3 linked regions of the Homo sapiens genome follow. The protein of the gene in region 1 purifies or fractionates together with the protein of each later gene. This does not show direct contact. Each region holds a gene or a part of one and is shown in the gene's direction. Other genes may lie near its edges. The genes, in order: WDR3, EPB41 and ANKRD26.

What was found.
Region 2: the proteins of WDR3 (region 1) and EPB41 purify together in Homo sapiens (affinity purification with mass spectrometry; one large-scale study listed by BioGRID and IntAct). This does not show direct contact.
Region 3: the proteins of WDR3 (region 1) and ANKRD26 purify together in Homo sapiens (affinity purification with mass spectrometry; one large-scale study listed by BioGRID and IntAct). This does not show direct contact.

What each region holds. Positions count from the first base shown.
Region 1 is NC_000001.11:117,960,695-117,964,003, forward strand, and holds part of WDR3 (WD repeat-containing protein 3), read left to right. Parts: 3' UTR 1-3,104; coding exon of another isoform or gene 3,105-3,244; 3' UTR 3,245-3,309. Other genes in the region: SPAG17 (sperm-associated antigen 17), read right to left, coding at 3,105-3,244. UniProt on the Homo sapiens protein: Part of the small subunit (SSU) processome, first precursor of the small eukaryotic ribosomal subunit.
Region 2 is NC_000001.11:29,032,925-29,036,581, forward strand, and holds part of EPB41 (protein 4.1), read left to right. Parts: intron 1-168; coding exon 169-321; intron 322-2,901; coding exon 2,902-2,999; intron 3,000-3,657. UniProt on the Homo sapiens protein: Protein 4.1 is a major structural element of the erythrocyte membrane skeleton. It plays a key role in regulating membrane physical properties of mechanical stability and deformability by stabilizing spectrin-actin interaction. Recruits DLG1 to membranes.
Region 3 is NC_000010.11:27,013,376-27,017,032, reverse strand, and holds part of ANKRD26 (ankyrin repeat domain-containing protein 26), read left to right. Parts: intron 1-2,321; coding exon 2,322-2,539; intron 2,540-3,657. UniProt on the Homo sapiens protein: Acts as a regulator of adipogenesis. Involved in the regulation of the feeding behavior.

The sequences.
Region 1 (3,309 bases):
TTTCAGTAACATACTGTGTATTACAGTTCATTTTATGCAGCTATGATTTAATACTGCATCTTTACATTATTTTACATTTCTCCCAAAACTGTGAATTGCACCATGTATGATCTGTATTTGTGTGTGTTAATGTTGATAATAGATTTGCGTGTATTTTATGGCAGTAAATGATAAAATAGTCTAGTATCTACATATATTTTGTGCATTCATGATATAACTACTTTTTTCCTAATTTTTTTCATCTGAAACTTTTCTCATTGTTTCAGATCTCCAAAAATTTTTCCAATATATTTATTGAAAATATCTGGGCTGCGTGCAGTGGCTCACGCCTGTAATCCCACCACTGTGGGAGGCCGAGGCAGGCGGATCACAAGGTCAGGAGTTCCAGACCAGCCTGGCCAACATGGTGAAACCTCATCTCTACTAAAAATACAAAAAACTAGCTGGGCGTGGTGGCAGGCGCTTGTAATCCCAGCTACTCAGGAGGCTGAGACAGGAGAATCACTTGAACCCGGCAGGCGGAGATTGCAGTTAGCCAAGACAGTGCCACCAGCATTCCAGCCTGGGCAACACAGTGAGACTCCATCTCCAAAATAATAATAGTAAAAAAAAATCTGTATAACAGTGGAGCCAAGTGGTTAAAACCCATGTTCAACGGATTGTCTACTGTATATCTTCATGGTAAGGATTTGGGGAATGTTCTAGGAAAAGATATTGACAGATACCTCTGGGTCTGGGCTTTTCTTTTGGGGAAGTTTATAAATGACTAAATCATACTTCTTGTTACAGGCCTGTTTAGATGTTCTGTATCTTCTTGAGACAGTTTTGCTTTTTATCTTTTTTGTTGTTGTTAATCCCAAAGATTTAAAACTATGGTTTCTGTCTGAATTTGGTCATTGCAACCAAGTTACTGTGTTGTGGGGCCACCATTTTCTTCTAGGCTCAGATATGCAGTCCTTGTGGCTTGCCGATTTGTGTCCCAAACCACAAGTCTTAATGTTCTTGAGCATAACACAATCACTGAAGTGAGTAAGGGATGCAGTGGTGTTATTTGTTGGGCAGAATAAATAAGTGAATTTTGGCATAGAGTTTCTGAAGGCATAACTATGAAGGCAAGAGAATAGGCAGGCAGGATAATGCATTCTAGGTGCTTTCCAAGGAGTCAGTGTTGTTTAGGCAGCTATTCCTGCCACCAGGGAGAGGAGTTAATTCTTGAAAAAAAATTTAATTTTTTATGAGAACAGAAGTTGATTCAATATCCTTCTTAGAGTTGCTCATCAGAACATAAATGTCACTTTCTAGTAACATTTTTGATGGTTTCCAAACCAAAACAAGTTCCAGGAGGGCATTCGAGATGTATACATCATCAATAATTACTCTTATGTTAAAAGTTGCTGTTTTCCCGTAGCTTTGCCACCATTTATAACTCAAAAGCCTGATAGTGCTAGGGAATGTAAAGATGTTTCTGTCTGCTAAGTGTTATACTAATCGAAGAGAAGGAGAACTTTTATGATAAAGTGACATGTACAGAACCTAGCCAAGTTACAATTTTTGGTCAAAATACTTGAAACTCTTTAACTCTAAAAGTTTAAGGTCAATAGGTGCATTATAAAGTAAATTTTAAGCCAGGCAAATTTCTAGTCATTAAGTCAGTATTCATTGCCTTAGTCAGCCATTGGCTGTATATAATCCTTAATATAAAAACCATCTAATGACTAATATCTCTTGCATATTGTGAAGTAAGTTACCTATAGAAATTCTGTAGTACCATAAAGAAAAGCCTTTTGAGATTGCAGTGAGCTGAGATTGTGCCACTGCACTCCAGTCTGGGCAACAGAGCCAGACTCCATTGAAAAAAAAAAAAAAGGCTCTTGAATGATGTATTGGGAGTAAAACATTTAGGCTTATTTTTAAAAATGTATATATCCATCCACTTAGAGAAAATATGCTTAAAAATTTTGAAATTCACTGGCTGGAAGCTAGGTGCTTTGTATATTTGGTATTAAATTGTTTCTCAATGGCAAATGTCATAAATTATATCTCATTCTAAAGATATCTAGCAAATCTCCAGCAGAGATCTAGGACAGTGCCCAGGAAAGCAATGGTATCTGTTGGTAGGTACAGGACTGTATATAGGACTCTATTCACTTAGCTGTAAATGATGAGCCTGCTCAATGCAGCCTTTTCAGGCCAGATTAGTCTTCAGAAAGAGAGGGAGGTTGTGAGCAGAAGCTTAATGAAGAAACCACATTGGCTTACAGTTACTGTCTGCAATCCACCCCCATTCCTCACAATTTAAGCTCCTAAGTTTGAGATGGGGCTAAGGTTCTTAAAGGTAGTATCACCATATATTCAAGTCCTTTCTCTTTATTTCTGAGGTTTTTGGGATCCAAGCAGCCCTGGTATGTTTTTAGAACACAGTACACATTGTGTAACAGTCACTGAGCCCAACTCTTACATAGGGCCTGGCAGTGTTGCCCTTGTGTATCCCTTCCCCTTGAGTATGGGGTCGGACCTAGTGACTGGCTTCTAGTGAACAGAATACAGTAAATATAATGGGATGTGTCTTCCAAGATTAGGGTATAAAGCACTGAATTCTACCTTGCATGAGCATTACATTTTATAATATATATAAAGAAGCAACTAGTATAGTTATTTAAACAAATATTTTCTTTTTTTTTTTTTTTGAGACAGAGTCTCGCTCTGTCTCCCAGGCTGGAGTGCAGTGGCACGATCTTGGCTCACTGCAAGCTCCGCTTCCTGGGTTCACGCCATTCTCCTGCCTCAGCCTCCAGAGTAGCTGGGACTACAGGCACCCGCCACCACACTTGGCTGATTTTTTCTATTGTTTAGTAGAGACGGGGTTTCACCAAGTTAGCCAGGATGGTCTCGATCTCCTGACCTTGTGATCCACCCACCTCGGCCTCCCAAAGTGCTGGGATTACAGGTGTGAGCCACCGGGCCCGGCCTAAACAAATATTTTCATTCATTCAGGCCAGGTGGCTTATAGGTTTCTGACTATAAGAAGAGGGGAAGAAACCTGGGGTCTAATACCTCAAATTTGAATGCTTGACAATCAAATTCCCATTTATTACTTACTGTACCTAATGTGGAGAAACTTTACGAGACATGAAGACTCCAAGTGTGGAGGAATAAATTGTAGAAGTTCTCTGGACCATTGGATTTTCTTTTCCCTGGGGAAAGTCTTTTGGTCGTTTATCATAATTGCTGCTTGTTAAAACAGGTAAAATACTTGTTAAGGGCTGTGCTTTTCATGACTAAATTATTTGCATATATAAACCTAAATAA
Region 2 (3,657 bases), about 89 Mb from region 1:
TGATTTAAACATAATAGGTCCATAAATTATAACTGTTAGGCTGAGCTTTATTTTTCATTGTATGTTTTGTAACTGTTTTTGGTTGTTATCTTCAGATTATCTAGTAATAGTCAACAGTGTATTGAGTACTTTGCTCCAGACTGAAATCCTAACATTTTTCTTTTTCAGGACTTGGAAGGAGTAGATATCATCCTAGGTGTCTGCTCTAGTGGCCTTCTGGTTTACAAAGATAAGCTGAGAATTAACCGCTTCCCTTGGCCCAAAGTGCTGAAGATTTCTTATAAACGTAGTAGCTTTTTCATCAAGATTCGGCCTGGAGAGGTACAGAATTTATATTTCCTTCCTCCCAAACCAGACACAGTCTGTATCTGAAATATCTACATTTCCATTTTCCTTATTAAGTCATCTGAGAAGTCTCTCTATAGTTAACTATTGAAGGGCTGATAATTCCGTTTTCTAAGTTGATCAGTCCTGTGATGCTACTTCTTTTCCTTACTACTGGTCTTCTGGACATTTCACTTTTTGTAAGTAAATATACCATTGCAAAAAGTTAAACTTGGACTGATACATTTGTTCCTTGTTTACGCCAAGCAAAAACTTAATGGAAAAATATTTTTAAATTGAGTAGCATGAGATTTTAAAATTATTTATAGGGATAAATTACTCATGTTTGGCATCACCAATCCTTTATCTCATATAATTAAAATTTATTTGTATGCATAGCTTCTCGTGGTTACTGAGAGTGAGTTCTAGGGCCAAGTTCTAGATTTTTAATAAGAGTTGGATGTTCAACTTTGTACCAGTTAATTCATTTATTAGTTGGTTTGGGGATATACTAATGCTGGCCAAATTTAACTTTTGTATTGAAGAGCCATTATGGAATAGCATAAAATTGTTTAAGTAGGAATTAAAGTTTTTTAAAAAGTTCTGACTTCTTTTCTGCCACATACTAAGCAAAAGACCTGGACAAATCTAAGGCTCAGCTTCCTTGTCATTTGGGCAGGATAATACCTTCTCCATCATAGTTATTTGAAGATCAAATGAGATGACAGCTGTGTAAGTTCTATATAGGAAATGATACTAACCTAAGGTGGCTTTTGTGTGTATATATCACCATCTGCTGGTGAATAATGGCTAATTATTTGTGCCTGCAAATTCTGGATGTGGAGCCTTAAAAATCTTGGATAGGGATTACCATAGAAGCATTTATTTTGTACCATAATTATTTTACCTATGCCTAGCACAGAGCAGTCAGTGTCTTCCCTTAAAATTTCAAATTCAAGAGTTATTCAATCAACAAATATTTATTGAGAGCTTTCCTGTGTTGGACACTATTCTAGGGACTAGGAATATAACAGCAAATTAGAATCTCATCCCTCACACACGTTAATATGAAAATGGGAAATCCTTAGCTTCTAAAAATGTAGAATTCTTATTTAGAAGGCAATCAGGAACAACAGGATTTTGAGAAAAAGTATTGTGGCAGCAGTAGATGATTTAGCAGTGGCATGGTATGGTGAAGAGGGTAAAAATCTGGTTCTGTCATTTCATAGCTGTCAGTCTGAGCAAATAACTTCTCTGACCTCAGTTTCTTCATGTCTAAAAATATAGATGATATTATCTAATCATAGTGTTACTGGCAATAGTAGGCACTCAAAATAAATGTCAGTTTCCTTTCCATCTTATAAAATATGCTTAAAGTAGAAATAAAGAGGCAAGAGGTCAGCAGGACAGTGTTTCTAGTAACCCTGGGAGAATATGTTTTGCTTCAGTATAAGAGGAATCTAGATAAATTAATGATCAATCAAAGGAAAAAAGAAATATTTAATGATTCAAGAATCTGAGGAATAAGTTCAAGAGATCTATTGTACAACATGGTGACTATCATTAATAACAATGTATTGTTCTCTTGAAAAATTGCTAAGAGACTAGATTTTAAGTTTTCTCACCACAAAAAAATAATAAGTGTGTCAGGTAATACATATGTTAATCAGCTCAATTTAGCCATTTCACAATGTATACGTGTTTCTTGGGTTTGTTTGTTTGTTGTTTTTTTTTTTTTTTTTTTTTTTTGGAAGAAGAAGTCTCGCTTTGTCACCCAGGCTGGAGTGCAGTGGCGCCATCTCAGCTCACCGCAACCTCTACCTCTCAGGTTCAAGTGATTCTCCTACCTCAGCCTCCTGAGTAGCTGGAATTACAGGCGCGTGCCACCATGCCCGGCTAATTTTTTTTGTATTTTTAGTAGAAATGAGGTTTCACCATGTTGGTCAGGCTGGTCTTGAACTCCTGACCTTGTGATCTGCCCACCTCGGCCTCCCAAAGTGCTGGGATTACAGGCGTAAGCCACCGTGCCTGGCAGGTATACATATTTCAAAACAACATGTTGTAGATGATAAGTATGTACAATTTTTATTTGTCAATTTAAAAAATTGATTTAAAAATCTGGCTTGAACTAAAATCTTTAGCTCCTATTACTAATTTCTATTGCATAATAATATTGATTGATTGGAGGACTTGGTCAATATCCCATTCCCTGTTCATTGAACAGTGTCCCAAATGCAGATAGTGACTAAGGAAAAGCAGTGTCTGGACAATCAAGAGGTGACTTAATTGTGTCTCAGAAAAATGTATAATGAATGTGTGTGTGTTTTCTGGAAAAAAAAAAAAAAGCTTAAATTATATGAGATGCATTCCCTGGCTTTCTTGCTTTGGAAAAAGCCACCCTCAGTGAGTGAATTTCTTTCAGTAAGTAGGAAAAAATTCCAAATGACATTTTATGTCCTTAAATTGGTAACAATGGCCTCTTCTGTGGCACCATATTTCTCTGGTACTGTATCACTGTAATCTGGTACTGTATCACATGTAATACTTCATGTCCCATGTTTATTTGTGTTTTTGTAGCAAGAGCAGTATGAAAGTACCATCGGATTCAAACTTCCCAGTTACCGAGCAGCTAAGAAATTATGGAAAGTCTGTGTAGAACATCACACGTTTTTCAGGTATTATTCTCACTTAAGTATTTTTCAAGGATAAATTATTTATAACGTTTCTATTTTAAGCCTGCTATTAAAATTCCTTTCATTGTATGACTGGCACTCTTTTATTTAGCTCAGGTGAGATCATCTTAAGCAAGACAAAATGAATCCATTTCTCTCCCTTTGGGTTGAAAAGTATGCCTCAACATTTCCAAAGCACCTGTCTGTGTATGGTAGAAGGAAGAGAGGAGTAAGGAATGGGAACCTGTATTTACCAGGGACTCTGGGATTGCATTAATTGTAGCTAAAGTCAGTCCGATTAAGGGGAGTTACCCTCACTTACCTCCACGTGTGATTTTTTTTTTTTTTTTTTTTTTGAGACGGAGTTTCGCTCTTGTTGCCCAGGCTGGAGTGCCGTGGCGCGATCTCGGCTCACTGCAACCTCCGCCTCCCGGGTTCAAGTGATTCTCCTGCCTCAGCCTCCTAAGTAGCTGGGATTACAGGCACCCGCCATCATGCCCAGCTAATTTTTTGTATTTTTAATAGAGACACGCTTTCACTATGTTGGTCAGGGTGGTCTCAAACTCCTGACCTCAGGTGATCCACTTGCCTTGGCCTCCCAATGTGCTGGGATTACAGGCATGAACCACTGTGCCCGGACGGAATTTTTATTTTTTTGTTT
Region 3 (3,657 bases), on another chromosome or scaffold:
TATTTTTGGTAGAAACAGAGTCTTGCTTTGTTGCCCAGGCTGGTCTCGAACTCTTGGCTTCAAGTGATCCTCCTGCTTAGGTCTCCCAAAGTGCTGAGATTACAGGCATGAGCCACCAAACCTGGCTGATAAATATTTTAAACTTCAGCTTTTTTTTCACATATTTAAAATTACTCTCTGAATCACTAACTCAAAAGTAAAGGAAAAAAATACACAATAATTACCCAGGTTTTATATAAATTAAATTTTATTAAGGGATAATTTACAAATAATTAAACACAACCATTTTAACAGTTTGACCCAAGTATATACTTGCTTAACCACCCTCTCAACAGAGAACATTTCCAGAAAGTTCTCTCTTGCCCTTTTGCAGTTAATTCCCCCTACTTCATCCCAGGAAACCACTGGGACTTTAACACAACTTGTGTTGTTTTTGCCTTAAAAAAAAAAAAACAAAGCTGGGCACGGTGGCTCATGCCTGTAATCCCAGCACTTTGGGAAGCCGAGGTGGACGGATCACGAGGTCAGGAGTTCCAGACCAGCCTGGCCAACATAGTGAAAACCCATATCTACTAAAAAATTTAAAAAAATAATCAGCCAGGCGTGGTGGCACATGCCTGTAGTCCCAGTTACTCGGGAGACTGAGGCAGGAGAACTGCTTGAATCTGGGAGGCGGAGGTTGCAGTGAGGCAAGATGGTGAGAGCTAGACTCCGTCTCAAATACAAAACAAAACAAACAAATTAGGCTGGGCATGGTAGCTCACACCTGTAATCCTAGCACTTTGAGGGCTGAGGCGGGAGGACCACTTGAGCCCAGGAGTTCAAGACCAACCTAGGCAACAAAGTGAGACCCCATCTCTACAAAAATTTAAAAAAGTAATTAGCCAGGCATGGTGGTGCATGGCTGTAGTCCCAGGTACTTGGGAGGCTGAGGTGAGAGGATCATGTAAGCCCAGGAGTTTTCAAGGCTGCGGTGAGCTATGATTGTGCCACTGAACTGAAGCATGGGCGACAGACTGAGACCCTGTCTCTAAAATAAACAAAGCCAAAGGAATGTCTTTCCTCTCTTACCCACATGGGTATATGAGTGTGTGAGTGTGTGTGTGTCTGAGTGAGTGATAAAAATCTACTTAATAACATGAGTTTGTGTGTCTATGAGTGATTAAAACTCAATAATTTAACAAATTTGTTTTAGTTGGGATAAAGAGCGATTGAGAACTGCGTGGGACCCCTGTGCTTATGAGAGAGGATGGAGGGTGCAAACTGGTGGAAAGGATGTGAAAATTAACAGAGAAATTTCAACTGGGCCACTTGAAAATATGTAGCCGTTGTGAGAGTAGAAAGTCTTCACTCCTCATTCTCAGCTCTTTCCCTTCCCTCAGGCTAGTGAGAGATAGGAGTCTTGGAACACAATCTACAAGGCCAAGGTGGTAACAATCCATGATAACACAGATTTCTTCACATGGTATTTATGATAGTCTTACAAAGCTCTGCATGTTAGCTCTTAGAGACATGGAATGAGAATAGGAAGAAATCTTAGTGATAAGCCAGTGTAGTTTCCCATTTTACAGATGAAGAGACCTAGGGAAAGGTTAAACAGCAGGGCCCAAGCCATAGAGCTAGTCAGGCTCAGGATCACACTCCACATTCCTTTACTTGTAGTCCAGGTGATTCCATAACCTTATGCTCCAGCAGGTAGAATTACTGTAAGAGATCCAACACCTTGGGCTTTTTTCTCAGCATGTATTGATGCGCACAGCATTTATCCCTAAGAAGCTCTAAGTTCCTGTATCTTACATACAGATGATTGCTTTAATTTACTTTGCCAGGTGTATTCATAAAATGGAATATCACATCAAAATTTTTAAGCATATTCAAGTCTTCCCCATGAATATATTTTAACACAAAAATAATTTTTATAAGATTTTTCATTCGAAAATATCTCCACATTTGTAGTCATTTTCTTTCTTAGGTTTTCCTTATGTTACCAATTATAATTTTTTATTTTCTATATGACATTTCCCCCCATCGTTAGACATCTGGGTTGCCAGTCAGCCTTTATTGTTTTGATTACTTCATCAAGGATGAAAATGCTTCTCTAGTAGAAACTCACTTTCATTTCTTTGGAAGTATTTGGATTCCCTTTTCAATTAGAACCCTGGGATGTCCTCTTATCTCTTTGACCAATGCCTGCTGGCACAGAGATCTTTCTCTTTTTGGAGTTTGGGTTAAAAACAAAACAGCCCTTAGACACCGAGTAGGTGACCATGGTCTTACTCAGGTTATATATTTTTAAAACATATGCTTTTAATTTGTTTTAGGCACAAGCAGCATCTCAAGAAAACTTAGAGCAGTTTAGAGAGAATAATTTTGCTTCAATGAAAAGTCAGATGGAACTCAGAATTAAAGATCTGGAATCTGAACTCTCCAAAATAAAAACTTCTCAAGAAGACTTTAATAAAACCGAACTGGAAAAATATAAGCAACTCTATCTAGAAGAATTAAAAGTTAGAAAATCTTTGTCAAGTAAACTAACCAAGTAAGTCAAAATATAGAATCATAGGAAATAAATTAAGCTCATTAATTTGCCTTGAAAGCATAATTCTTAGGTTCATGAGATTAATGGGAAGTGAAAGCTAAATAGGTAATATAATTTTGGAAAATGTTAGTAAATTAACTTACCTTTAAAATGTGAGTCCAGGACAGTTTATGTCTTTCCTCTGTTTTTTTTTTTTTAATTTTATATGGCTTTTCCGTTAATATTCTTAGGTAGTTAACTGGATCTATGTCTTTCAGCTATGTGCTTTTAAAACTTTGTAATTTAGACATTGATATTGTCATCAGATTGCTTATCAGCATTGCCATAAATATAATTATTAATGAGTTGGGCTGTTTTTTGGAAAATTACAACTTAAACCAGAAGGGTCAAGTATCACTACTACTCTGCACATTCTGGCACTCCATAAATGAACTTTCCTTGATTGTGATATCTGGTATTATCACTACAGGGTGCCATGAGACAAACTACCCTGTATAGTTTTTCTACTACTTAAAGGCATGCTAGTGAAATAGGGAATGATTAACGTAGGGATGAAGGGAAGTATATTTTATAAAGTGGTTAAAAATAACACCTTGGTCAGCCTGAGGGAGTGTGTGGAAAACAGGTCAGGCCCCACCTCTGATGCCTTGGGGACAATGTTAGGAGCTAACTGCCTTTGAGACTCTTTAGTTCTTTTTGATCACCAACTCAGCTATCTTCTTTTCCCCTACAATTTTTTGCTCTGAATTATTCCTTGGGGCCAGATGCCTAATATTTTTCCAGATAATGGGTGAAATAAATGTAAAAGGGTGGTGAAAGCAAATGCTTGCACATGTCTTGAGGAATTTTTTAATCTCTAAACTGGTTTACTAAATACAAGTATTTTTAGCTGGGCTTTTTCCTTTGTTATTAGTTTTATTAATTGTATGTATCAAAACATGATGTTTTTGATATATTTGTACATGGTGAAATGGTTATTATAGTCAAGCAAATTAACATATTTATCATGTCACATATTTACCCTTTAAAGACAAGTATTTTTAATGGCATCCTCAGGAATCTTACCAGTGGAGCATTCCAGAAGGCAGCAGGTGTTACCTGTGAAGTTATACATCATT